Regions from separate parts of the Homo sapiens genome. Here region 2 is linked to region 1. Evidence: fine-mapped expression QTL. A gene starts in region 1. The other region holds a variant in brackets. All regions are shown on one strand. Distances are from middle to middle.

What was found.
Region 2: its variant is fine-mapped to the expression of UPB1 in whole blood (INTERVAL, PIP 0.97).

Annotation. Positions count from the first base shown.
Region 1 is chr22:24,485,603-24,500,938 of GRCh38, reverse strand. UPB1 (beta-ureidopropionase 1) reads right to left here and starts at 5,607. Exons shown (of 10, transcript NM_016327.3): 1 at 5,432-5,607; 2 at 661-832. The coding sequence starts at 5,535. It overlaps ADORA2A-AS1 (ADORA2A antisense RNA 1), which reads left to right and starts at 5,865. Exons shown (of 7, transcript NR_028484.3): 1 at 5,865-6,249.
Region 2 is chr22:24,466,497-24,482,628 of GRCh38, reverse strand. ADORA2A-AS1 (ADORA2A antisense RNA 1) reads left to right here. Exons shown (of 7, transcript NR_028484.3): 2 at 7,476-7,646; 3 at 10,734-10,861. Among named protein-coding and RNA genes, the nearest start is that of ADORA2A-AS1, 21 kb to the left of the region's middle. RefSeq lists a silencer at 2,908-3,095. The variant A/T (reference allele first, on the strand shown) is at 8,533.

The DNA.
Region 1 (15,336 bases):
CCTAAGAATCCTCAAACACGCCGTATCCTGAGGAAACCTGTGCAGGAAAATCCCTGAAAGTTTGAGCAGCTGGAGGAATGCTGTGGAGAAGTGTATAAAGCAAACCACCTGCGCCTGTGACAACATGTTTCTTTAGGGAGATACAAGATGCTGTCACCTTTATTTACTAACTCTGAGGTCATAAGCGAATGCCTATCTATTCCCGTAATCCTGTAGGCACCACAACTGACAGACTTCTGGGTATAGCGAGTCCCCGCCCTGAGGATTAAGGCAGAAGAACACACGGACAGACGGTCCCAACCAGCGTGTGCTGGCTGGCCGCCTCCTGGCAGGCAGCTGAGAGGCAGCGTCCCGTGGAGAGCACGAGCAGGCCAAAAGGGCACCCTCCCGGTTGGTAAATGGAGCTTCAGATCAATAGCTGGAGAGAAGTGGAAAGATCAGTGAGGAGGAGGGAGAGACAGAATAAGAACAGGAAGACAGAAGAGCCAGAGATGCAGGCTGGAGGGATGTGGGGAGGCCAGGGCAGAAGCGCCTCTGCTACTGCTTGAGGCGCCCAAGCCTGCAGACCCGGAGTATGCGGCCAGCCAGGGCCTGCAGGTGTGCTCCAAGGGCAGGCCACAACCCTGTTTGTGTATTTATTATGGTCAAAAGAGTCTGCACCTGTTCTGCCACAGGGGCATTTGCGGGGAGGGGGATTCTGTTCTGAACCAGCCCCACGTGCACAATGCGGGGTCGTCTCAGCTGCTCCTCCGCTGCTTCAAAGGCATATCCCTGCAGTTCAAAGTCTTCTCTGGAGGCAGCTTCGAAAGCTTCCCTGGGCAGATCAAGCTTCCTAGATGGGCAGGAAAAAAGAGGGAAGGGGATTTTGATGCAGTCTGCTCCACTTAAAATCTCTCTCCCATTTCTTGTAGCTATTTATCAGCCAAAGAGGTGAGGATGTCCTGGCTAGAAGGCGCTCAGTGCCAGGGCCCAAGGGAGCTGGCGAGCAGTGGGGTCCAGCCATGACAGAACACTACACTGAACCTGGACTTTACCTGCAATTGGCAGGGAGACCTCAGCAGAGTCAGCACGGTTAGGCCTGGCAATGGGGAGGCCAGTTAAGAGGTTGGTGTTTTAGAGTTGCTGAAATCACGGTAGGAATTAAAGTCCTGGCAGTCAGCACAGAAAGGAGGGAACAGATTCTCAAAAGTGTTTCTGAACCAGAATCAGGGCTATGCTGAGCCTAGGGTGTGAGGCAGGCTGTGGGAGCCGAGGGGCTTGGAAAATGGGGCTCAGGAGACAGGTTGGATGGAGAGGCCATGACCTGGGATCACATGGATGGCCTTATGGTGAATAAAGACCCTGGCCACTCTGTCCTGCTGCTCCTGCTGGGGGAGGCCAGTTCTACATCTGGTGTTGGGTGGGCTTGGAGGGGCCCAGGTGTTCAGATGGAAGCCCTAAGTGCTCATCCACATTTGTAGTTTATTAACCAAGGCTAGAGAATTAGTTATAAAACCTTCCACTGAAGTGACCATTAGCCAAACAGCAAATACCTCCTGATACCTGTTGCACACCCGAAGGTGAAAGCCACAGAGGCATGGGATGGGACACGGCCCCTAGCCAGGAAGGGCTTACCATCTAAGCGCAAGATGATTATGAAATACTCAGAAAACACATCAAAAAATAACCTGACAGCCATTATCTAATAATAATATTTCTCTCCTACTTTAAATCACTTTCTTGGAGACGTTTCTTTCAAAATCACAGCCCTGTCAGCCCAAGCCCCCTGTCGCCGCCCCCTGCCAGGCACTTTCCATGTGACGGCCCTGACAGCTCTGAGTTCGGTTCCGCCCCTGACAATCAGCCTGCTTTTCAAGTAGTCAAGGTTCCCTTCACTCCAGCAGGTTAGAAATAGCAGCAGTGCCCACACCGTGCCTCTCCTTGCTGTGACTGCCTTAGACAGTCCTCCCACCCTCCAGCGGAAGGGCGCTCCTGCAGGCCACAGCCTCAGAGCAAATCCCCTCTGGTGGACATAAATCACGCAGCTTTCCAGGATATGGGTGTGGGCAGACACCAGGAGAAAAAGGAGCAAGGCTTATGTGTCTATTCCCTCGAAGGCCTGTGGGCCTGGGAGCCAGACAGCTCTTTCAGAGTGTCCTGGTGAACCCTGCCTGGCCTCTCAGCCTGTGGTCTCACACCAGGAAAATGTCAGGTGAAGAGCTCGTCTTGGGTGTGGAAACATGGCTGTAACCACCACCTGGCTGAAGTCTCTCTCCTCATCTTCCCACCATGCACAACCTCCATTACCTACCCTTCTTCCCCCAAGTGATGCCTCCGCCTAGCCAGCCCTGAGGCTGCCCACCTCCTTATCCCCAGCTCCCTGCGAGCTCATTCTAAGCCAAGGTAATACAGGAGAGGCCGCTCCACCCTCCAGGACAGCCACCTTTGGGGCTCTACCTCCTCCCAGCCACTCCTGTCTACTATCTGGGCAGTACCTGTAAGGCCTCTCTGCCCTCCCATTATCAAAGGCGGTGCATTACCACATCCTACACAGCTTCATCTTGGAGAACCTAACCAATCCTCAAGCCATACCCTGTGTAGACGCAGTCAATGACCATGTGCTGTGCCCACCGAAAGGCCTGGTACAGGAGATGCAGTGGAACACTGAGACAGACTGAATGCTTATGTCTGCCCCAAATTCATATGTTGAAATCCTAATCTCCAATGTGATAGGGCTCTTTCAGAGGTGATTAGGTCATGAGGGTAGAGTCCTTTTAAAAGACCAAGAGGGCATGCTTGCTTCCTGCACCATGTAAGAACACAGTGAGAAGGCACCATCAAAAACCAGAAAGTGGGCCCTCAACAGACACCAGATCTGCTGTGGCACCTTGATCTTGGACTTCATAGCATTCAGAACTGTGAGGAATAAATTCATGTGGTTTAAGATGGGGAAAGAGACCGCAGCCAGATGTTGGTTACAGCCAGGGTTGCACACTCAGACAAGAGCTCTGCCACCTGACTTCTTCCTGGTGTGAGACCACAGGCTGAGGACAGTGTTCACTAGGACGTTCCCAAAGGGCTGTCCAGCTACCAGGCCCACAGACCTTTGGGGAAACAGACACACAGACCCTTCTCCTTTTTCTCCCTGTGATTGCCCACAAGTACAGGGAAGTCTGGTATTCTGTTATAGTAGCCCAAAAGTACTAAAACATCAATCAGCCACTGCCCAGGAGGACAAGACCAGCAAATGAGCCATAACCTCACAGACGGCCTCCTGCTGCCACTGCCTGCCCTGGTCCCTGTAGTTGGCTTTCAGACCCTCTACCCCTCACCCTGCTACTGAGGCCTCCCCACTCAGGGCTTCCCTTCAAACTTCAAGGAGTAAAGCCCTTCACTTCCCATCCTAGCCCCACCATGCCCTTCAGGGCCCCCACCTCTCCCACCCAGGGTCAGGCAGACCTTGCCAGAGGACACCAAGTTCCTGCCTCCTCAGCAACCTCTCACTTCTGGAACTTCATCTTTCCATGTCTGATGGCTCTTTACCACCAGCACTTTAAATCATTAAACTAGAGCTCTGTTACAAAAGAGACATGTGCTCATGGCGGGGGTGAATCAAATAGTGGGAAAGGGTATAAAATGAAACATACATTCCCCTTTCTACCCCACCCCTAGTCCCAAAACTCAGAGGCAACCCCTCTTAACAATGTTTTATGTCTCTTTCCTATTTTCCTACGTGTATGCATTACAAATACAATGGTATCATTCTGTATTTTCTGTTCTTCAACTTGCCTTTTTCACTTAATACACATAGCTTGGACATCTTTCTCCACTAGTACCTACAGACCTCCACATCCATCACTGAAGCTGTTAAAGAGTCTCTCCCGTTGAAAAACAGAAGGGAGATAGGGGGGAGAGAAGGTGAGGAAGAAAGAGAAAGAGGGACAGTGTTCCACATATGTCCATGTGTTTACTCACTTGCTGTCTCTCCCTGCTGCCTAGGGAGCTTCCACACATGCTTCCCCTCAGCTCAGGCCTTACCTCCTGGCCCCATCTCAGGAACTGCCAACAGCCTTATCATGGCTAAATCCAGCAGACTTCCTGCTGTCCTCACCCGCTAGACATTTCTGAGCCATCTGATGCTTCTTTCCTGTCCTGCCCCAGAGTCCTCACCTCCAGAATCTCCCACAAAGTCTCTTTCTCTGACCCCTTGAATATCCAGGTTTTCCAGCATTCTCTCCAGCGCCCTCTTTTGTACCTGCTCCTCCTTCACCTGGAATGACCATCTCCAGGGCAGCTCAACAAGCCCAGCCTCGCCCACCTGAGGCCCACCTCCACATAGCAAATAGCCCCTGAGTTATTTCCACCTGCAGACCCTGAAGCTACTGTAGCAGGTTGAGCTGTGTCTCCATCCTGACACCTGGAACCTGTCATTGTGATTTTATTTGGAAAAAGGGTCTTCACAGACGTAATTAAGGTCAGGATCTCAAGATAAGATCATCCGGGATTATCCAAGTAAGCTCCAAATCCAAAGACGTGTGTGTGTGTGTGTGTGTGTATGTGTGTGTGTGTGTGTGTGTGTGTGTGTGTTTGAGACAGGGCCTCACTCTGACTCCCAGGCTGGAGTGCAGAGGAGAGATTTTGGCTCACTGCAGCCTCGACCTCCCAAGCTCAAGTGATCCTCCCGCCTCAGCCTGCCATGTAGCTAGGACTACAGATGCATGCTACCATGCTTGGCTATTTTTTTAAATGCTTTATAGAGATGGGTGTCTCACTATGTTGCCCAGGCCGGTCTCGAACTCCTGAGTTCAAGCAATCTTCCAGCCCTGGCCTCCCAAAGTGCTGAGATTACAGGTGTGAGCCCGGCCAGGAAGTGTCTTTTTCAGCTTTGTGGACACAGTGTCCAGCAGTATACAGCCCTCAGAAAGTCCTGGTGATGCACAAGCTTGCAGGGAGTGGAAAAACCAGCGCCCATGGCTTGCCAGTGGGAAAGGTTCCCTCGCCAACTAAATGCAGACAGCCTCTATTTCCAAGGGTCAGCCAGAGGTCGGGTCACCGCAAGAAGGATGGTCTGGGGCCGGACAATCAGTACACCTGCTGGGTGCTCTGGTTGGAGACAGTGATCCAGCCAGACATCCAGAAGACAAGCCCGGCTCCGGGGAGGAGGGTTGGGATGGCCACAGAGAAAGCCCTGGAGAGTAAAATCCCGTCCTTTTCCTTCCGGTTCTGGGCAACGTGGGGGAGAAGAGATTTGTAAAGGTCACGCCAGGATTCTGCAACCCCCAAGGACCCCGGGGCCGTCCCATCAAGACCTACTATGGTCTCTGCCCGCCAACTCAGGACTTCTCACCGCCTCCCCTGAGCCCTTCAGACCCTGAGGCCCTCCCTGCCTGCTCCCCCAGACCCACACTCTGTGGCCCCAAGACCCCATTAGCTTAGCCTCTTGGCTGCGGACCTGAGTTCCTTGCCATAGAGAACGCGCTTCACTTCCTGCAAGTCGGGGAGCGGCAGGTGCTTCTCCAAGCATTCCTCCAGCGACTTCCACTCAGCGCCCGCCATGGCCACGGTCCGCCAGTGCTTGTGTCCGCGCACGAACTGCCTGCCCTTTGCCCGCAGTGGGAGGAGGTGCCCAGGCCCGGTCAGGCGCCCTTGCCTTTATCTCTTACTCTCGCTCCCAGACAGCTCAAGTGAGGACACGCCACTTCCTCGCGCAGCCAATCCGCCTTCCAGGGCTTCGCGGGTGGGACCGCCCCTGGCCTTTAGCGCTCCTTCGGCACGTGCCAGGACACGTTCCTCTTGCCGCCTCCGCAGCACACGGCCAATCAGCCTCCAGGGCCTCACGTGGGGAGGGGGCGAAAGGATCCGGCGCTTGCCCTTCGCCCCTTGCCCTTCGCCTCTCGGTTAGCAAGCGATGAGGCACGCCCCTCCACAGGCGGGACTGCGCGGAGTCGTCGCGCCTCGGCTGCGAGTCAGGACTGAGGCTGTCCCCCTCCCGCCTCCCTCAGGGGCCCTGGCGCGGGTGCCTCCAGGTTCCACCCCTCACCTGCCCCTTGGTGTCGGGCCGGGACCCTGGAGAGGTCGTGAGGGAGTCCTGGGCGCGGGCTCCGGGAGGCTGCGGCGCGGGTCTGAGGTAAACGGCCCGGCCGCTGCGGGCCCTTGCGGGGGCTGGTTCCAGCAGCAACCGCCGGGCAGGGCCCCTCCCGACCGCGACCTCCTGTCCGCACCGTAGGGCAGCCGGCCGGGCCAGCCTCCCTCACAGGACTACCGAGGAAGGTAAGGGAAGAGTTTCAGTGTCCCACGGGCACGCGGCGGCTGCACCTCTGTCGTCCGGAGCCTTTATGTCTGGGGAGTTTTAACCCCCGAGGGGCCAGGCTCGGAGTCCATGCCGCTACCTGGGTCGCGCGTTCCCACCCCCGGCTTTGGGGCCGCTGGAGCCGAAGGTCAGTTGCTCGCCTGCGGTTCCGTGCGCCTCGGTGGAGCTAATATTGTAAAATGCGGGGTCCCCGGGTGAGGGCGCGCCCCCTGCACCCTAGGGCCCCTTTTCAGCCCTGCCCTCTGCCGCGTGTGTGCAAATATGGGCACTTTCCTGCGGTAGGGTGCGCTTTAAACTGTCACTGAGATGGTAGGAGTGAGAGCCCCATTTGCTGTTACCGCGAATCCAGAGGGTGCCATCCCTTCAGGAGCAAAGAAGCGTCCTCTTTGGGGTCCTATTGAGAATTAGGGCAGTAAGGCCCGCTTACTTCGGCGGGCAGCCGGGTGAAGGAACCAGTCTGTAGAAATCCTATTCAGCCACTTGTAAACCTTGTGACCCCAGGAAAGTTTAACTTAGTCGCTGGAGGCTTCTGTTGCTTTATCTGTAAAATAGGAATGCAAAGATTACGCTGCGGGGTTGTTTAAAAGTCAGAAAAGGCCAGCACGGTGGCTCATGCCTGTAAACCCAGCACTTTGGGAGGCCTAGAAAGGGGTATTGTTTGAGGCCAGGAACTCCAGACCAGCCTGGGTAACACAGCAAGACCCTGTATCTACAAAATAATGTTTTACAAATTAGCCTATCATGGTGGTGCGCACCTGCTTCTTGGGAGGCAGAGGTGAGAGGATCGCTTGAGCCCAGGAGTTCGAGGCTCCCTAGCTATGATCTTAACACTGCACTTCAGCCTGGGCAACAGAGTGAGACGCAATCTCAAAGAAAAAAAAAAAAGAGGCAAGTAAAATGAGCACAAAGGGAGCTAATTTATATCTAGAATCAGCTACTAACATTAAAAATATTATACTTCAGGTATTTTGTTTCAGCTGCTAATTCACAAGTTTTGTTCCTTGTTTTGATAAATGTTAGCTGACGGTTTCTAGTATCTGATGGAGCTGCCTTCTCAAGAGTGCAAACTCTGAGGACTTTCTATGTGTAAGGCACTGCTAAGAGAGCCATATAAAGACAGATAAGACCTAGTACCTTTTCTTTGTGATTTAAAGTAAAGACGGCTGGGCACGTTGGCTCACACCTGTAATCCCAGCACTTTGGGAGGCCGAGGCGGGCAGATCACCTGTGGTCAGGAGTTCGAGACCAGCCTGACCAACATGGTGAAACCCCGTCTCTACTAAAAATACAAAAATTTGCCGGGCATGGTGGCGCATGCCTGTAATCCCAGCTACTCGGGAGGCTGAGGCAGGAGAATCGCTTGAACCCAGGAGGGGAGGCGGAGGTTGCAGCGAGCTGAGATCGTGCCATTGTACTCCAGCCTGGGCAACAAGAGCAAAACTCCGTCTCAAAAAAAAAAAAAAAAAAAAAAAAAGGAAAGACAAACTTGTAAATACAGCAGATTTAAATAATTTGAGATGAAAAAGATACTATGGAGTGCAAAGAGGTGATTTCTGGCTTAGAGAAATTGTTGGAGGTCTCATGGAAGAGGCTTCAAAGCCAACTCAAAATGCTTCAAACTGAATGAACTTTCACCTCCTTTCTCAAGCAGGCTCTTATCTTCTTTTGTTGTTGTTGTTGTTGTTGTTACAGAGTTTCGCTTTTGTCGCCCAGGCTGCAGTGCAATGGTGCGATTTTGGCTCACTGCAACCTCCGCCTCCCAGGTTCAAGCGATTCTCCTGCCTCAGCCTCCCGAGTAGCTGGGATTACAGGCGTGTGTCATCACACCCAGCCAATTTTTTGTATTTTTAGTAGAGATGGGGTTTCACCATGTTGGTCAGTCTGGTCTTGAACTCCTGACCTCAGGTGATCCGCCTGCCTCAGCCTCCTGAAGTGCTGGGATTACAGGCATGAGCCACCGCGCCCAGCCTCTTATCTTCTGCACTGTATTCCCTATTTCAGTAATGGCCTCACCACCCACTGATTTGCCAAGTTTTTGAGAGTCATCTGCAACTCCTCCATGTTCTTTCTTTCCTCAATACAATCAGGCATCAAGTTCTGCTAAATTTATCTCCTGGATTTTGTTCATATCCTTCCTCCTCCCTCCTCATGTCTGCCTCCTGTCATCTTTTGCTTGAATTGTTGCCAGTCTTGTAACTTGTCTCTCCACCTCCAATGTCTATCCTTAGTTGTCTTTCTAAAACTAGTATCTTACCATCCTTTGTACCCTCTCATTCAGTGTATCCCTACCTGGAATCACCTTTCATCCTTCATTTTGTGACCGCCTTCTCATCCTCCACCATGCAGTTGAAACATCACTTCTGTAAAGACTTCTCCAATTGTCCCAGAAAAAGTTAGGCTCCCCCAGGCCTTCATAGATAGTTCTCTTGTTACATTTATTAAACAGTATTGTGTAGTTATTTCTGTGCTGTCCTCAGAAAATGGACCGGATCTACTTTTGTATCCAGAGGACTTTAGCACTCAATAAATGATTATTGAAGGAATCAACTCTGGGATCATGGACAAATTCATTAAGGTGATAACACTGAGCTGGACCTCGAAGCAGTAGTAGAAGCTATTATTACTAGTTAAATTGTTTAGTTCATCTTTCCCTATTGTTCAGTGACAGGTCATTCGTACTTGTTCATTGTAAACCAGTGTTTCATAAATAAAACTTAGGATTTAAAAAGTTGTATTAAAAATGTTTATATTTGCCCAATTTACTTTTTACTCTGAATGATAGCAAGACACTTCACTAGCTCTTTCTGTGGTAATCATTTTGTTTTTTGCTTTTTTTTTTGAGTTGGAGTCTCCCTCTGTCACCCAGGCTGGAGTGCAGTGGAGCAATCTCAGCTCACTGAAACCTCCACCTTCTGGGTTCAAGTGATTCTTGTGCCTCAGCCTCCAGAGTAGCTGGGATTACAGGCACACGCCACCACGCCCGCCTAATTTTTGTATTTTTAGTAGAGATGGGGTTTTACCACGTTGGCCAGGCTGGTCTGAAACTCCTGAGCTTAGGTGATCTGCCCACCTCAGCCTCCCAAAGTGTGGGGATTACAAGCGTGAGCCACTGCGCCCGGCTCTGTGGTAATCATTTAAAAAGACTTAAGGCTTTGCCCTAGTTTCTTTCTGAAATATCCCACCAACCCAAAAGGTTATAACTGCATGAAGCATACTAGAGTGAGGGATTCTTCCTTGTTTGGAAGAACAACTCTTTCTCTGGCAACATGGTGTGGTTTAAGGATATATAACCCATAATTTGGTAAGTGTATACAAACATGGGCAGGAAGGACAGAATACACACAACTTCAACATGATGGATACCTCTGGAGAGAGAGATAGGGGAATGAAATAGAAGAATGGGAATTATCTGTTGATAGATAATGTTTTAATTCTTTTTAAGAGATCTGAGACATATGACAATATTAACATTTAAAAAATCTGGGTGCTTATTATTACCAATACTTTTCTTTATGTTTGAAATATTTTTTTAAAAAATTATAGAAGAAAAGAGACTTAGAACAGGAGTCAGAAAACCTGCAGTTTAGTCTGGGTTCTACTTTAACCTCAGTTTTCCTGTTATAAAAAAGATAGGGGCCAGGCACGGTGGCTCAGGCCTGTAATCCCAGCACTTTGGGAGGCCGAGGTGGGTGGATCACTTGAGGTCAGGAGTTGGAGACCAGCCTGGCCAACATGGCAAAACCCCATTTTCTACTAAAAATACAAAAATTAGCTGGGGATGGTGGTGCGTGCCTGTAATTCCAGCTACTGGGAGGCTCAGGCAGGAGGATCACTTGAGCCTGGGAGGTAGACGTTGCAGTTAGCTGAGATCGTGCCACTGCAGTCCAGCCTGGGCAACAGAGCAAGACTCCGTCTCAAACAAAACAAAACAAAAAAAAGGGAGGGGAGGGAACTGGTGAGACAGTCTATAGAGATGATGTAAGTCTTGTCCTAATTCTAATAAAATATGATTCTAATAATCTAGCCATGTATAAATTCCTCTATATGCTTATTTGTGAGAAAACAGTTTCATTATAGAAGCTGGTTCTGCAGAAGGAGCTTATTTTTAAAAATGTATTAGTGGGGCTGGGAGCGGTGGCTCATGCCTGTAATCCCAGCACTTTGGGAGGCCGAGGCGGGTGGATCACGAGGTCAGGAGATCGAGACCATCCTCGCTAGTACGGTGAAACCTCGTCTCTACTAAAAAATACAAAAAATTAGCTGGGCGTGGTGGCGGGTGCCTGTAGTCCCAGCTACTCAGGAGGCTGAGACAGGAGAATGGCATGAACCCAGGAGATGGAGCTTGCAGTGAGCTGAGATTGCACCACTGCACTCTAGCCTGGGCGAGACTCCGTCTCAAAAAAAAAGTATTAGTGTCTGTTTTTAGGTATTACTTTTAAATTCACAATATGTGTTTATTTCAATCCTTAGGGAAGGTATTTAAAGTACTTTTTAAAAAGTAATGTGTATAGGTAATTAAATTTTTTTATTTTTAATTTTTGTGAGGACATAGTAGGTATATATATTTGTGGGGTGCATGAGATGCTTTGATACAGACATGCAGTGTGTAATAATCACATCATAGTAAGTGGGGTATCCATCCCCTCAAGCATTTATTCTTTGTGTTACAAACAATCCAATTATACTCATAGTTATTTTTAAATGTACAATTAAATTATTGACTATAGTCACCCTGTTCTGCTATCAAACACTAGATCTTACTCATTCTTTCTAACTACTTTTTGTACCTATTAACCATCTGCACTTTTCCCCCATCCTCAACTACCCTTCCCAGCCTCTGGCAACCATCCTTCTACTCTCCATCTGCATGAGTTCAGTTGTTTTAATTTTTAGCTCCCACAAATAAGTGAGAACATGTGGTTTGTCTTTCTGTGCCTGGCTTATTTCACTTAATGACCTCCAGCTCCATCCATGTTGTTGCAAATGACAGGATCTCATTCCTTTTTATGGCTGAATAGTACTCCATTGTGTATATGTACCACATTTTCTTTATCCATTCATCTGTTGATGGACATTTAGGTTGCTTCCAAATCTTGGCAATTGTGAACAGTGCTGCAACAAACATGGGATGCGAGTGCAGATATCCCTTAGATACACTGATTTCCTTTCTTTTGTGTATATACCCAGCAGTGGAATTGCTGGATCATATAGTAAGGTACTATTTTTACTCATTTACATTTGAAGGACTAAAATGTTATGATGATCAATGGTGAACAATTCTAATAAGGGCCATGACATGGAGATCCCACCAGTCTTCTCCTATGACCCAGAGGGGCTGTTTATGCCCTCATTTAGCACTTTACAACACACAAAAGGCTTTTGCGTCATCTTGTCGCATTTGATCATCCAATAATACTGTGAGGTAAGGGGATAGGGTTTTTGGTATTTGTCAGATTTCCAAGTTAAACATGGTATTTACTGGAAAGAAACTGTAAGAGCCAATATTTTACTTATAGTCAAGGGAAAAAAGATCTGAGGTGACCCAATTTCTAAGCAACATTCTAAAACCCAATTTCTGGGTTAATTTGTCCCTACATTGCATTCCTTAGCCCAGAAGTCACAATTCTTTTTTCACTAGCATTTTTTATTGTTTTTTATCCTTATGTAGACTTAAGTGTCTCACATGAAAAAGTCTTGGAGTAGCCCACCCAAACTTACCAAAAATGGATTTTGCAGCAGAGCAAGGCCAACCCAGCCAAAATTGTGACAAATAAGGTTTTACGGCCCCCATTTTAGCAGCCTCCTTTTTGTCCCTTGTTTTTGTTGTGGGTTTCTTCTCCTCTCATGACCAGCTCTGCTTTACTCATAGTAAACCTTCTTTATTCATATTAAACCTCTAAAGTGTTTTTAAAATTTTATTTTTAATTGACAAATAATAATTGTATATATTTATGGGGCACAATGTGATGTTTTGATACATGTATACATTGCGGAATGATCAAATCAGGCCAATTAGCATATCCATCACCTCAAATATTTATCACTTCTTTGTGGCTATTTTGAAATAAACATTATTGTCATTATTATTAATTATTTTTAGAGGTGGGGTCTCTCACTCTGTCGCCCAAGCTGGAATGCATTGGCACAATCATGGCTCACTGTAGCCTCAACCTCCTGGGTTCATGCGGTCCTTGCAGCTCAGCCTCCCAAGTAGACCACAGGCACGAGCCACCATGCCCTTTTTTTTGTTTTGTTTTGTTTTTTGTTTTTTGGAGACAGGGTCTCATTATGTTGCTCAGGCTGGTCTTGAACTCCAAGGCTCAAGCAGTCCTCCTGCCTTGGCCTCCCAAAGTGCTGGGATTATAGGCATTATAGGCATGAGCCACCATGTCCAACCTGAATCTGTTGTTTCTTAAGGATAAAGGAATGGCATGTCTTTGAGTCTACAGTGATTTGCATATAACTGGCACTCAATAAATGATTGTTGAATCAAATTGGACACCATATCAGTATTGATAAATATTTAGAGACAAGGTCTCAATTTGTTGCCCAGGCTGGAGTGCACTGATGCAATCATAGTCACTTACCGGGTTCCTTTAGCTATATTAACTCAGCGGCTTATTTAGCCTGCTTTTGAAAAAGACCACCTTTGGCTGTAGCAGATTTATAATTATTTCCTTTCAACATGACTTCTAGCTGTCTCTGCACCCTGGTTATCTAGAACACAAGTGGTCTAAATCCTCAAGTGGCTCTAACAATGGTAGATATTGGGGGAGCTGCTTCATATAGCACAAATCTGTTTACTGGGAAGTCGCTGGTTCAGCATCTCATGGTTCATCCCTCTCTGATTAGCTTCCTGGCCCATATTCCCTTGGATTAGGAGTTTGGTGGGATCCTTAGCCATAACATTCTTGAGTTGCAGAGAATGTGTATCTCAGATCCCATTTTCAGAAATGTCCTTGCTGTAGATAACAGACAGTTACCTACTTGTATCTTGAGAAATAGTAGTGTAAGAGAAAGAAGATTGGTCTGAATACTGGTTAGAATATAAATATGTTCTAATCCTGGTTTTACTATTAGGTAACTGAAACTTTAGGTGCATTATTTGATACCTCTTCCTAATCTTCAAAGATATTAGACTAATTCTCATAGATTCTATGATTTTATGATTAACGGAGTATGAGATCCTTTTTAAAATCCAGATGGCAAGGGCAAGCAGAGCAGATGTTGCCTGACACTTACAGGAGAACGCCCTGGATAAGAGTGCCTTAATCACACGGACTGGGTCTCACTTGTGTGGGAATACCATGGGTCCCATAAGGACTGAACTGGACTAGAAATGAGAACACCCTGGATATGAGTGCCTTAATCACATGGGGTGGGTCTCACTTGTGTTGGAATACCATGGGTACAATAAGGACTGAACTGAACTAGAAATGAGGATAATGATACCTTCCCCACTTTCTTGAAGGAATGGAATAAGCTAAGTTGAAATATCTTTGAAAATCTATATAGCATTATCTCTATAGATGCTATTTTTAATCAAGGAGAAGGTGTTTAGATATAATTCTTCCATGGCAAATTATAAATATACCATCTTTAATGTACTGGATACTTATCTTTGCGTTGTTTTTTTCAGTGGTGATAATGGCTTTGCATTGAATCATTTATAGTCTTTCCACCAGTTCTTCTCGGGATAAATAGCATACATTTGAAAGATCGGTAATTTTGAGAAGGCTGCATGAGACCATGAAACAAAGCAAAGCTGACTAGCCTAAGCTGAACTCCAGTCCATGACTCATCACTAGTTTGTCTAATCATTTAGGATAGCAAACTAAGCATAGGCTTATGTATGACAGGAATGCAAAATCCCAGGTTGAATTTTTGGGCCCCAAATTTCATGAAGTATCAATGTGATAAATCTTTCTCTTTACCACTTCCTCCCCGCTAAAACAATTGCAGAAGTATGCATTGGGCCTAGCAGCAGTACGTGTGGCTGAATTAGGGGTATTGAGTTGACTAGAAGCTCAATGTGAGTCAACAGTGTGTGTGGCTGCCAAAAAAAGCTGATATAATCTTAGGTTGCATTATGAGAAGTATAGTGTGCAGAACACAAGGAAGATGACTATCTCATTCTGTTCTGTGCTGACCAGAGCACACCTGAAATTAATCTAGCTCTGGGATAGCTACACGACATATAGATCATCTTGAATATGCAGAAAAGAGAGATCTAACAGCAACAACAACAACAAAATGTTAAAGGCACTTGGAACATATATTTAGCAAAACAAGGCAAACAAACTCAGGAAGGATATTGTCACTTCATTCAGATTTCTGAAGGGGCCACATATAAGAGGTTTTTATTTGTTCCACATGTCCCTAAGGAGAGGAGCTGGAGTCAATGGATAGAAACTAAGGGAGGAGGCCAGGCGTGCTAGCTCACGCCTGTAATCCCAGCACTTTGGGAGGCCGAGGCGGGTAGATCATGAGGTCAGGAGTTCAAGACCAACCTGGCCAACATGGTGAAACCCCGTCACTACTAAAAATACAAAAATTAGCTGGGCATGTTGGCATGTGCCTGTAATCCCAGCTACTTGGGAGGCTGAGGCGGGAGAATTGCTTGAGCCAGGACCCGGGAGGCAGAGGTAGCAGTGAGTAGCAGTGGGCTGAGATCGTGCCACTGCACTCCAGCCTGGGCTACAGAGCAAGACTCTGTCTCAAGAAACTTAGGGAGGATATTTCAGGCCAATACAGTTATTTTCATTGGGTGATATAAAAAAAAATGAAATAGGCAGTCTCTGCAAGTGATGAGTTCTCATTCAGGGTGTTCAGGTACGGTCCAGATGACCACTTGGTGGGAGTGTTGTAGAAGATAGTCAGTCATCAGATGGGTAGTTGAATTACAGTCTGTGATTTCTGTATATTGCTGTAATATGAACCAAGAAAACCTTAGGGATGTCAAATCCAAAGAACCATAAATAAGCCAAAGAACGATACAAGACAGCCTGGTATTTGATGAAGTAAAAGTCAGTAACTGTGAGTTTACT
Region 2 (16,132 bases), 19 kb after region 1:
AGGACAAGTGGAAATGTTTTTCTTTTAAATAATTCAAGCCTGCAGTCTTCCAATTCAGTTTAAGATAGTTTGAGTCTGCTATATATAAATGTGGATAGTGTTCCAGTGATAAATGAGTAGAATTCAAAGGAGGAATAAGTAAAACGTATTATCTGTGTTCAACTAAGAGTGCATGAATAAAGCCCTGGTGGTAAATATACAGTAGCCTCCATTTGAAGGTGTATAAGGGAAAGGAAATACTATTTGCTTGTTGACCTGGATTATAATGTACTTAACCCATATTATTCTAGTATAATTAGAGAGAGTCAAGCCTGATGCTCCAAAGACATTTCTGTTTCTTACATTCTGTTTCTATCAGATAGACTTAACTCAAAATCTATGACAGACTCTCATGGCTGGTTGCTCATATTTCTCTCAGTATTTTCCTGAGTTAATCAGTACAGAAAGTGGCAGGGAACCAAATGATGTTAAAAGAGTATTAAAGCTATAGGCATATAATATAGGATTATATAGTAATGATACTGTTTAACTGATCATTTTTCTGTTCATTGGGAAGCGGTGTTCTTATTTTATTAGAAGCAGCATGGTACAGTAGCAAAATTGTGTTTTTAAAGTTCTAACTCTGCTATGTATTAGTTATATAAGTTACTTTTTTGAACTTTCTTTTATTCTTTATCATGAGATGACAGTACTTGCTTGAATGGTTGCTTCAAGGATTACATGAAAAGCAGGTCTGGGAAATAATTAGCAGTCCAATGCCCAGCTCTCAGTAAGGGCTCAGACATGTTAATTCTCCATGTCTCCCCTACAGGAAAGCCTCTCATGAAGTTGCCTAAGGAGCACAACCCCTGGAATAACCTTAGTGTTGGTTACTCAAGAAATCTGTGTTTTTTTTTTTCGAGGGTAGATTTTACTTTTGAAAAAACAGAAATTAACTCTGAGCTAAGTTAATGGATGATCAGGTTAGAGGTGTTCACAAATAAAGTATGACTGTGAAATAATTGGCTTCCTTGTTGGGATTGTAGATGGACTCTGAAAGCAACTCCAACACAGAAGTTCCAGAAAAGTGTTAAAGCAAAAACAACATTTTTGGAATCAGTTTTGGATAAATTCTTGTATGCTTAAACTTCAGCATTGTTACTTTATAATCACACTTCATTTCCGTGGAAAAGGTGCTGCAAACAGAATTGATAATAGAGACCAGTGGAGAGTGAGGAGAAAATAAAACCAAAGAAAACATGTAGAGGCCATCCCACTGACACAGAGCCTAATTGAAATATTTTTAAATTCTTTCTTTAGATACAACTCAAGCCTGGTTGCTAATGATTTGTAAAGTCTCATTTCTGAATCTATATTATATTATATTCTCTCAGAGCAAAGCAGTCTTCAGCTCAGTATACCATACCTTAAAATAAATGTATCTTTGTCTTTGCTAATATCCTTGAGTTTCCAAGACTTAAAAACTTAAGCCTGATTCTTTGTTCTTACATTAAACTTTTACTGTCATTCCTGTTTGTGAACTGTCTTGCATCCTGCCCCTTCTCCAGTCTTACTGCATCCACCATCATCACCTGCCTGCCTGGATCTTGCCTGCGTCATTGTATTAGCAAAGAAGCTGTATTAGCTAGGAAGCTAATTTCTCCTATTTCAGTGTGTTTGTCTTCTAGTAGAGCCTTTTCAGCGTAATAGTTTAAGCTTAATATTCCTAAAATAACACTCCCATCTTATGTGTATATTTATTACAATACCCGACATTGATGTATAGGTAATTGTTTATGAGAGAATCATTTAGTTTCAGAATTTTTGATTCGATTTTGAGATATTTGAAAGCATGAACTATTTTATTAATCTGTGTCAGTAGTGCTTAGTACAGGGTCTTGCATGTAGCTGTGTCACTTCAAACAAGTTCTTTAATGGCTCTGTGCCAAAGTTTCTTTGTCTGTGAAGTGGGGATAATAATATCTTTCTCAAAGGATTGCTTCATTAAAAGAGTATGTATATATGTGTATCAAAAGGTAGTTTTTCTATTATAGCTTTTGTATATGTTCACTTTTTTTTTTTTTTTGAGACAAAGTCTTGCTCTGTTGCCCAGGCTGGAGTGCAATGGCATCATCTCAGCTCACTGCAACCTCTGCCCCCCAGGTTCAAGCAATTCTCCTACCTCAGCCTCCTGAGTAGCTGGGATTACAGGCGTGTGCCACCAGGCCCAGCTAATTTTTTGTATTTTTAGTAGAGATGGTGTTTCACCATGTTGGCCAGGCTGGTCTTGAATTCCTGACCTCAAGTGATCGCCTGCCTAGGCCTCCCAAAATGCTGGGATTACAAGCATGAGCCACCACACCTGGCCACTTTGGTGTTATTATAGCACTCAAAAAAAGTTACTGCTTTCTGGCTGGGCGCAGTGGCTCATGCCTGAAATCCCAGCACTTTGGGAGGCCGAGGTGGGTGGATCATGGATCGAGACCATCCTGGCTAACATGGTGAAACCCCATCTCTACTAAAAATACAAAAAATTAGCAGGGCATGGTGGCAGGTGCCTGTAGTCCCAGCTACTCAGGAGGCTGAGGCAGGAGAATAGCGTGAACCCGGGAGGCGGAGCTTGCAGTGAGCCAAGATCATGCCACTGCACTCCAGCCTGGGTGACAGAGCTAGACTCTGTCTCAAAAAAAAAAAAAAAAAAATTACTGCTTTCTTATTTTAGGCAAACTCCTTTTTTCCTTATTTTTTTTTTTGGAGATAGGGTCTCATTCTGTCGTCTAAGCTGGAGTGCAGTGATGCTGTCTCGGCTCCCTGCAACCTCTGTCTCCTGGGCTCAAGCCATTTTTCCTCCTCAACCTCCCAAGTAGCTGGGACTACAGGCGTGTGCCACCACGCCTGGCTAATTTTTGTATTTCTAGTAGAGACAGGTTTCGCTATGTTGCCCAGGCTAGTCTCGAGCTCCTGGACTCAAGTGATCTGCCCGCCTCAGCCTCCCAAAGTGCTGGGATTACAGGCATGAGCCACTGTGCCTGGCCCAGTTTCTTGTTTTTATCTTGTCTCTCCAGTAAGAGTGTAAGCTCCTAGAGGACAGGGACCATCCTATATTTCTTTCATATGCCCTACTATACATGGCATAGTTCTGGGCTTTTATTCATTAATTTAATAAGCATTTCTTAATGAATATTTAATGTACAATATTATGTCATGGGATATAATAATTAATAAGACAAGGTCTTTAATAGTGTTGAGGCACCTCCATCCTAATGCGAGCTAAAGATACTAGTATTTAGTATTTCACTTAGTGCTATGGAAGACTTTGTAGCAGATGATTAATATTCTCAGATCTATTAATTACATAAATCTGGGCTCTAAGCAGAGTATGAGCAGGGTGAGTGCCTGGCAATAAGGGCTCCCAGTCTGCAGCAATATCTGAGGTGAGACATGATAAAGGACTGAACTAAAGCCCTAGAAATAGAGTGGGGATGGATTCAAGAAGCACTGTGGAAATGAAAATCAAAGGGATTGTGATGGCTCCAACATAGAATATGAGGTGTAGAAGACAAGGATGTTCAGGATGATTCTGGCCTCTTGTCTGAGTATTGGTTTAATAATATAAGCCATTTAGGAAATAAGAGCCATGAGGAGAAAAAGCCAGTTTGGAGATTAAGATGCCCCTGGGACCTCCAGAAGGAGATCCCTGTGAATGGCTGGAAATTCAGGTCTGGGGCCTAAGGATTGGAATTTGGACTAGAGAGAGAAAAAACTGGAAATTTTAGCAAATAGTGGTTGTTGAAGCCATGGGAATAGAAGAGATCAGGATGTGGAAAGATGAGAAGTATAAAGTACCTGAGACAGAAATGTTCAGAGAAGTTAGAGGAGATGCAGGAATCAGCAGGCCCCCAGTGTCAGTGTCCAGCAATATTAATGCTGCAGTGAGACCAATTTGCCATTATGTGTTGAATTCAGCGTTTGAGAGAGTATTGAAAAGGTGGTCCCTGGCTCAATAAATAGCGATCAGAATGAATTGAATAGAGGGCAAGAAAGGGTCTTTGAAGATGAAATAGGGCCTTTTTTTTTTTTTTTTTTTGAGACAGTGTCTTGCTCTGTCGCCCAGGCTGGAGTGCAGTGGCGCATCTCAGCTCACTGCAACCTCCACCTCTAGGGTTCAAGTGATTCTCCTGCCTCAGCCTCCCAAGTAGCTGGGATTACAGGTGTGTGCCACCACACCCAGCTAATATTTTTGCATTTTTAGTATAGATGGGGTTTCACTATGTTGGCCAGCTGGTCTCAAACTCCTGGACTCAAGCAATCCACCTGCCTCAGCCTCCCAAAGTGCTGGGATTACAGGCGTGAGACACCATACCCAGCCTTCAGCTATGATTTCTTTTTCTTTCTTTCTTTTTTTTTTTTTTTTTGAGACAGAGGCTCACTCTGTCACACAGGCTAGAGTGCAGTGGTGCGATCTCAGCTCACTGCAACCTCCGCCTCCCAGGTTCAAGCGATTCTTCTGCCCCAGCCTCCTGAGTAGCTGGGATTACAGACAAGTGCCACCATGCCCAGCTAATTTTTTGTATCTTTAGTAGAGACGGGGTTTCACCATGTTGGCCAGGCTGGTCTCGAACTCCTGACCTCGTGATCCACTTGCCTTGGCCTCGCAAAGTGCTGGGATTACAGGTGTGAGCCACTGCGCCTGGCCTGGGCTTTTTAAAAATGAAGCTTTCTTGAACATTTCTTGTGAGAAGTGGGAAAAAGGCCAGAAGAGAGAGAGAAATCAGTATCTGTAGTGTTCTAGGATATGGGCTAACCCCTTTACATGATTTTGTGTTTAATCTTCATTATCACCTTATAAGCAGGGGTGTCCTATCCACTGGGCATGAGACTCAGCATGGTTAACTAACTTGCCCAGAGGAGTCAAGAATTGTTTGACTAAGACTAAACCCTTTCCACTACACGTGGCCATTTCCAGGCTGTTATCCATCTCTAATCCTTCACTAAAGAAAGTGAAGTTGGTCTGGATACAGAAGAGGCTGGAAAGGTTAGTGGGGCCAAGGTCACTGTGGACAAACTGCATGAGAGGAATAGGGACACTGTCCCCATGACAGGAGGCAGGATATAAAGAATAAACTACACAGGTAAGACCTAGAGATGGAAAGCCTCCCTAGAAGTGAGAACTGAGGGAGCATACTGGAGCCTTAGCTGGTCATTTCCTAAGAGGGAGGGGTAGAGGAGGGCATTATGCAGAGATCAGGAAACACTCAATAATTGACTACTAGAAATCATAGCTGGGGACAGGCACAGTGGCTCACACCTGTAATCCCAGCACTTTGCGAGGCCAAGGCAAGTGGATCACGAGGTCAGGAGTTCGAGACCAGCCTGGCCAACATGGTGAAACCCCGTCTCTACTAAAGATACAAAAAATTAGCTGGGCATGGTGGCACTTGTCTGTAATCCCAGCTACTCAGGAGGCTGGGGCAGAAGAATCGCTTGAACCTGGGAGGCGGAGGTTGCAGTGAGCTGAGATCGCACCACTGCACTCTAGCCTGGGCGACAGAGTGAGCCTCTGTCTCAAAAAAAAAAAAAAAAAAAAGAAAGAAAAAGAAATCATAGCTGAAGGCTGGGTATGGTGTCTCACGCCTGTAATCCCAGCACTTTGGGAGGCTGAGGCAGGTGGATTGCTTGAGTCCAGGAGTTTGAGACCAGCTGGCCAACATAGTGAAACCCCATCTATACTAAAAATGCAAAAATATTAGCTGGGTGTGGTGGCACACACCTGTAATCCCAGCTACATGGGAGGCTGAGGCAGGAGAATCACTTGAACCCTAGAGGTGGAGGTTGCAGTGAGCTGAGATACGCCACTGCACTCCAGCCTGGGCGACAGAGCAAGACTCTGTCTCAAAAAAAAAAAAAAAAAAAAAAGGGTGACCAGGCTTGTGCTCACACCTGTAATTCCAGCACTTGGGGGAGCTGAGGTGGGAGGATCACTTGAGGCTGGGAGTTTGAGACTAGCCTGGGCAGCATAGTGAGACCCCATCTCTTAAAAAAAAATGGGCAAAAAATTTGAATGGACACCCACCAAAGAAGATGGCAAATAAGCATAGGAAAAAATGCTTAAAATCATGCATCATTAGGGAATTGCAAATTAAAACAACGAGATCCTACCGTACACCTATTAGAATCTAAAACATTGACAACACCAAATGGTGATGAGGATGTGGAGCAACAGGAACTCCCATTCATTGCTGGTGGGAGTCAAAACAGTACAGCTACTTTGGGAGAGTTTGACAGTTTTGTATAAAATTAAACCTACTCTTGCCATATGGTCTAGCAATTGTCCTTTTGTATTTAGTCAGAGGAGTTGAAAACTTATGTCTACACAGAAACCTGCACATGAGTGTTTATGGCAGCATTATTCACAGTTGCTAAAACTTGGAAGCAACCAATATGTCCTTCTGTAGATAAATGAGTAAATAAACTGTATGGTACATCCATATAATGCAATATTATTCAGTGCTAAAAAGAAACAAGCTATCAATCCATGAAAAGACATGGAAGAACCTTAAATGCTTATTATTAAATGAAATAATTTGAAAGGCTGTATATTATATGATCCCAACTATATGTAATTCTGGAAAAGACAAAACTATGGAGATAGTAAAATGATCACTGGGTGTCAGGGGCTTTAGGAGGAAGAGATGAATAAATAGACCAGATGGGATTTTTAGGGCAGCGAAACTATACTATATGATACCATAATGATAGATACATGTCATTATACATTTGCTAAAATCCATAGAATATACAACACCAAGAGTGAACCCTAATCCAAACATATGGACTTCGGGTGATAATGACGTGTCAGTGTTGGTTCACTGGTTGTAACAAATGCACCACTCTGGTGCTGGATGTTGGTAGCAGGGGAGGCTGTGTGTGGAGGCAGGGGGTCTGTGGGATAGCTCTATGTGTTCCACTCACTTTTGCTGTGAACTTAAAATGCCCTTTAAAAGTCTACATAGGCCGGACACAGTGGCTCATGCTTGTAATTCCAGCACTTTGGGAGGCCGAGGCAGGTGGAATGCTTGAGCCTAGGAGTTTGAGACCACCCTGGACCACATGGTGAAACTCCATCCTACAGAAAAACACAAAATTAGCTGGGCATGGTGGTGTGTGCCTATAGCCCCAGCTACTCAGAAGGCTGTAGTGGAGGATCACCTGAGCCCTGGAGGTGGAGGTTGCAGTGAGCTGAAATTGAGCCATGCACTTCAGCCTGGATGACAGAGTAAGATGCCATTTCAAAAAAAGTCTATGTAAAAAAGTTGAGGGGGGAAGGATTGGGAAATCAGTATATTGTAGAAAAACTATGTGAAAATATTTTATGTTTACATAAAATTAAGTTCCATTCCCTAAAGAATAAGGGATAAGATATAGAAAAGCTCTAGATTCTCAAGATGATGGAGAGCACCCAAAGCATTCTTTTTCTATTTTATTATTTTTTTTAGAGGTAGGATTTCACTCTGTCACCCAGGCGGGAGTGCAGTGGTGCGATCATAGCGGGGACTACAAGTGTGCACCACATGCTTGTCTACGAACCTGAAGTATTCTGATGCAGTGGAGAGAGTGTAGAACTCTGGAGTGAAGAGATCTGCCTGGAACCCTGACTCTATCACTAGGTAATTCCTATAATCTCCCTAGGCCTGTTTTCTCAGCTGGAAAATTGATTGATTTGTGGTATTTGAAGTGCCTTTGAGCTTGGGATATCCATGCTGGTGTTTGGCTACAGTATAGCATAGTGGCTAGAGCACAAACTCTGGAGTTAGAATGTTTAGGTTAAACCTCAGCAACTCACACCAAAGGTATGTGACTGTGGGCAAGTTATTAGCCTCTCTGAGCCTCAGTTTCTTCATCTGTAGACTGGGGATAATAATAGTAAATATACTGCTGAACAGTTTTAAAGATTCAATGAAAAAAAAATCTATAGAAAGTGCCCGACACACAGTAAGTAGAAGATAAATATAAGCTATTATAATTACAAAGTGTATATGCTGTTATTCTGATACCCTTTTGCTACCGCTGAGAGCACACTACTCTATACCTACATATAGTTGCAAGGAACAGGAGGTAAATGGAATTAACCAATTGGAGTTTGCCAGGTTCCCCGTTTGGGAAAGGAATGAAAGGAATCTTCAAATATCTGAGTGGTCAGGACCTCTGGGTTATGACTCAGCTACAGTCAACTGTCAGATTTTCCCACAGCTCAGTGGAAAGTCACTGAAGACTCCGTGAAAACAGTGCCATCTCTCCTTCAGTGTTTCTCTGCTAGGATGCACTGCTGACTCTGGAAGTCTGACCATATTTTTGTCCCAGCAGGCAGAGGGATTTAAGCAGGCTTGGTTGATTTTTCACCCAAAATGTCTGCAACTGTTTCTGCTGTACTGATGATGCCACAAGGCTCAAGCCTGTGAGAGTTTATTGTCAACCCCACTGCAGGGCATCAAAGAAGAAAAGTTTGGGGTCTGGATTGTTTTTCCAGGCAGGAACAATGATGTAGTGACTATC[A/T]TAGATTATTTCAGAGTTCAGAATCTCATGTCTCAATTCCCCTTGCTGCTCTCTACCTTTCTCTGTGGATGAAATTAAGATTATGGATGATGGCCGGGCGTGCTGGCTCATGCCTGTAATCCCAGCAGTTTGGGAGGCCGAGATGGGTGGATCACCTGTGGTTGGGAGTTCAAGACCAGCCTGGCCAACATGGCAGAAACCCCATCTCTATTAAGAATACAAAATTAGCCGGGCATGGTGGCGCATGCCTGTAATCCCAGCTACTCAGGAGGCTGAGGCAGGAGAATCACTGAACCTGGGAGGCGGATGTTACAGTGAGCCGAGATTGCGCCATTGCACTCCAGCCTGGGCAACAAGAGTGAAATTCCATCTCAAAAAATAAAATAAAAAATAAGATCATGGATGTCAGCTTGAAAGATAACATTAGTGATAGTCACTGAGATTTTTTTTTTAAGTTTTCTCAGATTGCCCCAGCAGAAGCTCCATCTGTTAATGTAATTGTCCACAGATTAAACAGAAGTGGAAACATCCACATAATTTGCTTATAATTCTAACATCTTTTGAAATCTTAGGTCACTTCCTCAAATTTGAGTTCAAGAACCCTTTTTATCAATCTGTTTGAATGTTTCTCAATCTTCCTCTTTCTAGCCTTGCAGAGAAATCTCACAGCCAGATCTACACCATGATGTTCAAGTAACTGAGGGGCTAGTGATCTGGGACAAAGTACCTTTTCTTTCTTATGTTCCCCTTCTTAAGAGTAGAGTTGCCATGGTCCAAAGCTGGTCTGGAATTTCCCCTGCATTGAGGTCTACCCAATACAAGAATCGATTTTAAACCTAAATCTCTCGCCCAGGTATGAATTTCCTTATGGCTGCCCCAGGACTGGATACTGGATGCCATTCAACAAATATTGGTTTTTATTACACCCCTTTTAATAGCATTTTAGTGGCCTTGGCACCTCAACTCTGAATGTTTCTCCCTTTGGCCCTCCTACTTCTCTGTATACCTTTTTGTCTTCAGGTGGATCATTGGGATCTGCCCTTGGCAGAAAAATCTACACTGTGGTACTTGAAATGCCATGATATACATCTTAAAACAAATTTTTTTTTGGGACAGGGTCTCCTCCCTCTGTTGCCCAGGTTAGAGTGCAGTGGGCACAATCATAGCTCATTGAAACCTTAAACTCCTAGGCTCAAGCAAGTTTCTCACCTCAGCCTCTTGAGTAGGTGGGACTACAAACGCACAACCACCATGCCTAATTTTTTTTCTTTTTTGTAGAGACAGGGTCTTGCTATGTTGACCAGGGTGGTCTTGAACTCTTGGCCTCAAGGGATCCTTCCACCTTGGCTTCCGAAACAGCTGGGATTACAGCCGTGAGCCACCATGCCCAGCCATGATATACTTTTTTTTTTTTTTTTTTTTTTTTTTTTTGAGACCGAGTCTCATTGTGTTGCCCAGGCTTGAGTACAATGGCGTGATCTTGGCTCACTGCAACCTCCGCCTCCCAAGTTCAAGCGATTCTCTTGCCTCAGCCTCCCGAGTAGCTGGGACTACAGATGTGAGCCACCACGCCTGGCTAGTTTTTGTATTTTTAGTAGAGATGGGGTTTCACCATGTTGGCCAGGCTGGTCTTGAACTCCTGACCTCTGGTGATCCACCCACCTTGGCCTCCCAAAGTGCTGGGATTACAGGCATGAGCCACTGCGCCCAGCCGAAATACATTTTTTAGATGAAGAAATTGAAGCCCAGAAAAGGTAATTGGTTTTCCCAAGGTCATATAGGGACCTACACATTAACAGAGGTCAAGCCCAGAACACTGACTTCCCTGAATCCTGTTCCATAGTGACACTGTTAAGCCAGTAAGTGTCACCTTTTTAAAAATATGTATTTCCGAAGTAGGGGTTAGGAGGAATGGAGGGAATGAAACGCTCACTGAAGAAAGGATAGGGCTAAAGGAAGGATAGAACCCACACAAGGAAAGGGCTCTGGGTAGGCAGAAGGCCTAGGGAAATAGTATCTGGCTGTGGACAGGGAGAGGAGGTGCCATGGGGTGAGGAAAAGGCACAGAGAGAGTTGAGAGACCACCATCACCACATACTTGGCCTGCTTGAAAATCTAACTCGGCCAAACAGATATAAGTGCCCCTCCAGATCTTATTATTTCTACAGCTGTGACTTAACTGCTGCTTATCTTTCCTCCAGGAGATTCCTTGGAATGAAACCAATGGGAGTCCAGGGTTTGGGAGAGTCTCATCAGAGCAGATGGGCGAGCAGCAGCCAGAACGCTTGTTGCCTTTGGCTGAGAACACTATCCTGGATCTGAATGTCTTGTGAGCAAACCCCAGCAGGCTCAGCCTTAGGCCTGAGTGAAGTTGGCCTGCTTCTCCTTAATGAACCTTGTGTACTCTCTCATCTCCCTTCCCCTCTTTTGCATGTTGAAAATCACATTCTCAGAGCACTCTTGAAGCTAAAACCACGTTGCCCGTTAGCAGCCCCAGTAGGATGGCATCTTAATGCTTTTGGTCCCTTGATATATTTGGAAGTGTACTGCATGGAGGGTCAGGAGGCCTGGTTTTAGCTCTTACCCAACCACTAATTTTCCCTGAGACCATAGGCAAATTGTTCATCCCTGGGCCACACTTTCCTTAGCTGTAAAGTTGTTTATAATAAGAATAGCTTTCATTTAGGAAATTTTTACTGTATACCAGATATAGTATCATTGAATTCCTTCAACAATCCTATGGCATGGGTACTTTTTTTTATATGGAATCTTGCTCTGTCACCCAGGCTGGAGTGCAGTAGTGCTGTCTTGGCTCACTGCATCCTCTGCCTCTGGGTTCAAGCAATTTCCCTGCCTCAGCCTCCCAAGTAGCTGGGATTACAAGCATGCACCACCATGCCCGGCTAATTTTTGTATTTTTAGTAGAGATGGGGTTTCACCATGTTGGCCAGGCTGGTCTTGAACTCCTGGCCTCGAACGATCCGCTTGCCTCAGCCTCCCAAAGTGCGGTGATTACAGGCATGAGCCACAGCCCCTGGCCAGCATAGGTACTATTGTTGTCCTGCTTCACAGATAAGGAAGCTGAGGCTTAGAATTTTTATACCCTAACCATCCCGTTTAAATTACTAGCCCTTACCCATGGCCAGCACTCCTTTCTCTGCCTTATTTTAGCCATAGCAGTTTTTTTTTTTTGAGATGGAGTCTCGCTCTGTCGCCCAGCGCAAGCTCACTGCAAGCTCTGCCTCCTGGGTTCATGCCATTCTCCTGCCTCAGCCTCCTGAGTAGCTGGGACTACAGGCACCCACCACCACAGCTGGCTAATTTTTTTGTATTTTTAGTAGAGATGGGGCTTCACCGTGTTAGCCAGGATGGTCTCGATCTCCTGACCTCGTGATCCGCCCGTTTCAGCCTCCCAAAGTGCTGGGATTACAGGCGTGAGCCACTGCGCCCGGCCAACCATAGCGTTTATTACCATCTAAGATGTTACATATTTTACTTTTTGGGTTGCCCTCTCCTTCTGTGAGAGTGTAAGCTCCATTAGGGAATGGATTTTTATCTTTTTATTCCTGTTGTTATTGTTCATTTGCTGTGTCCCCAGGACCTAGAATTGTGCATGGTTCATGATAGGTACTCAATATTGGTTGAATGAAAAAAGTGAGTGAATGAATTCTTGTTAGGAGTGTAAATTGGTATAGATTCTAAGGAAGTCATTTTGGCAATAGTAATACTTAACATGTGCTAACCTTTGGACCCTGCAACACCAGAACTAGGAATTTATCCTATAGATGATGTATTCATGTGTCTGCCTAAAACCATGGGTACCAGGCATGGTGGCTCGTGCCTATAATCCCAGCACTTTGGGACGCCAAGGCAGGAGGATCACTTGAGCTCAGGAGCTCAAGACCAGCCTGGGCAACATAGTGAGAGTCCATCTCTACCAAATATATAAATAACCAGACATAGTGGCACCTGTCTGTGGTTCAAGCTACTTTAGGGGCTGAGGCAAAAGGATTGCTTGAGCCCCGGGAGTTGGAGGCTGCAGTGAACCATTATCATGCCACTGCAGTCCAGCCTGGGTGATACAGCGAGACCCTTTCTCAAAAAAAAAAAAAAGACTAGAAACAAGATATTCATCAATAAGATAACTCATTAAATAAAGTGTGATAGGTCCCTCCAGTGGGCTTCTATGTAGAAGTGGAAAAGAATGCAGTAAATCGAGGCTGGGCGCGGTGGCTCATGCCTGTAATCCCAGCACTTTGGGAGGCTGAGGCGGGCGGATCACGAGGTCAGGAGATTGAGACCAGCCTGGCCAACATGGTGAAGCCTGGTCTCTACTAAAAATACAAAAAAATTAGCCGAGCGTGGTGGTGGGTGCCTGTAGTCCCAGCTACTCGGGAGGCTGAGGCAGGAGAATGGCATGAACCTGGGAGGCGGAGCTTGCAGTGAGTCAATATCGTGCCACTGCACTCCAGCCTGGGTGACAGAGCGAAACTCCTTCTCAAAAAAAAAAAAAAAAAAAGAGAATGCAGTAAATCTGCATGTGCTGATACACAACAACCTAAGAGATATTAAGTAAAAAAAAAGCAGAGTATAAAATGGTATATCACTTCCTTTCATTTGTATGAAAAGAAAAAGTATGATAGATTTTAAGATGTACTTGTTTATGCCTAGAATCTTTCTAGAAAGAAAGCTAAGAAACAAATAGTTGCCTCTGAGGAGGGGACAGAAGTTTAGGTTGGGATGGAGAATATCCTCTTACTGAGGTGTAATTCACAAACCATATAATTCACTCATTTAAAGTGTATAATTCACTTTATATGAGTGAATTACTTTTGGTATATTACTTTTAAAGATTATGGTTTAAATATATATATAACGTAAAATTGGCCATTTTAACCCTAGCAACATAGCAAGCCTAGGCAACATAACAAGACCTCATTGCTGCAAAAAAAAATTTTTATATTATCCAGGCTTGGTGGCACATGCCTGTAGTCCCAGCTACTCGGGAGGCCGAGGTGAGGGGATTGCTTGAGCCCAGGAGTTTAAGGCTGCAGTGAGCTGTGATTGTGCCATTGCACTCCAGCCTGGGCAATAGAGCAAGACCCTGTTTCAAAAATATAAAAGAAAATAAAATATTTAAAAATTAAAATAAATTTTAAAAAGAAAGTATAACAGGTTTTGAAAACTTAGTAATTTGCCTAAGATCGCACAGCTCATACTCCATAGTAGCAACCATCAGTTTTATTATAAAGTAATAAAAATTCTTACAAAGAATGAAGTTTTAGCCATCTTTCTGGGTGTTATAAGGGATTTTGGGTATCATCTAACCCCTTCATTTTACAGGATAACAGATTCATTGAGGTGAGATGGCTACCCCAAGTTAGGAATCCCATCAGTAGCAGGCCTCCTAATCCAAGGGACGGGATTTAGAGTAGGTCACAGAAGAGGTCTTTTGCTCTTTGACAAAACAAGTAGGGTTTGAATCTCTCCTGCCCCAAAATGAAATTTAGGAGTCTCTTACTTGAGACATCTCTTTTTTTTTTTTGAGACGGAGTCTCGCTCTGTAGCCCAGGCTGGAGTGCAGTGGCGCTATCTCGGCTCACTGCAAGCTCTGCCTCCTGGGTTCACACCATTCTCCTGCCTCAGCCTCCCAAGTAGCTGGGACTATAGGTGCCTGCCACCACGCCTGGCTAATTTTTTGTATTTTTAGTAGAGACAGGGTTTCACCGTGTTAGCCAGGATGGTCTTGATCTCCTGACCTCATGATCCACCTGCCTCGGCCTCCCAAAGTGCTGGGATTACAGGTGTGAGCCACCACACCCGGCCAGATATCTCTCGTATGTCCCATGCACCTGTACTGTCTAGTAGGAGGGAATGGGCCCACTGTGCCCTGATATTATTGTTTCTGTTTATCTGAAACTATGCAGCAAGCCTTCAGAGCCTATCTCAATTTCTACTTGTGAGAAAATTTCTCTGATTGTCCTACCACATCCAATTCTCACCTAATTCTTAGACACATTAGTATTTGAAACATATAATTAGCCATCAGAGAATGATGTGAGGCATTTTATAGCTGTGTCCATTTATGAGTCCATTCTGCCCACTAGTGTAAAGCACCAGAGAGGCCAGAGGTAGGTGACTGATTCCTGCTAGAAGGTCCCCAATAGATGGTTGTTGGTTGCTTGGATTAATTGAGCTGTGCCGTTCTGAAAACAAACGAACAAACAAACAAAAAAACCCTATGATTTTAGATATGAGTTATTCCAAAGGCTTCTCTGCACCTCCCCGCAGAGCTACATACTAGGTCACAGAACATTGGAATTGGTGGACATTGTGGCTATCCCTCAGTTGCTGAGAACCAAGTGTGACCCTTCCCTGTTTTTCTTACCCTGGCATTAATTACACCTTCATTTATGTGATTGTTTGATTACAGTTCATCTTCTCCTCCTCCCTTCCACCCCCAATAGACTAGAAATTCCATGAGAACATAGACTGTCTGGCTTGACTCATCATCGTATCTCCAGCACCAAGCCTGGCACATAGTAGGTGCTCAAGAAATATTCGTTGAAGGACTGGATGAATGAATATAGTACCTTATTTTATAGATGAGGAAGCAGAGGCCCAAAGAGGTCAGGTCAGTGGCAGAGCTGGGACAAGAAGGCAAGTCTCCTGGTTCCTCAGCCAGCATTCTTTCTGTTTTCCTCTGTATCCTCTCAGCATTAGAATTGGAAAATCTTGGAACCTAGTCTTAAACACTTTTATTTTGCAAATGGGAAACTGAGGCCCAGAGAGGGGAAAAACTTACCCAAGGCCACAGAAAGAGGCACTGGCAAAGCAAAGTCTGGTACCTAGGTCTCCTGACTCCCAAGCTAGTGCTCTTTCTTTGTAAAAGCACAGAAAAAACAAAGCTGAATTGGGCTTCTTGCCAAGCCCCTGCAGGAGGTCACATAGCTGAGCAGCTCTCAGAGTTCCTTGTCTATTCTTAGCCTGAACTTTTAGTGACTCTGGTCTTCAGCAGCCTTTTTCCCCTTTTTTCCTTTGCATTTGGTCTGTTGTGTATATGTAGTGTGTGTTTTAAATAAATGGTGCTACGTGTAGGAAATGGGCTTCAGCACAGTCCTGCTGCAGAGGCCCTGGAAAGAATAAATGTGAGAGAAGGGGCCCTGAGAAGACAATCAACTTCCCTTCCTCTGAAGTGACCCCAGTGTCCCAGAGCCACCCCCTCTCTGCTGCTTGTCACAACACAACTGCCAACAGAAGGCTAAACTCCTTACACAATAAGAAGGAAATCAACAGAATTTACAAGGAGGATTGGCTGTTAGTATTTGCCACTGAAGCCTCATTTTGATGAAGATCAAAAATCAGCTCTTCCTAAGCTGTGGTCCCTCTTCTAACATACACTTCAATTTCCCACCAACAAGTCATTTTTCAGTCAGTCACCAAACATGAATGAAAAGACCCTTCAGACGCAGTTCTAGCCTCTCAAAGCCTACCGCTTTCTCTACTTGCACAAACACTTTCTCCAGAGACATACAAGAAATTTAAGCAGCTACTGACCTCAGGTTACTTGGAAAAGACAAGAGACACAGAGGATAGAAGA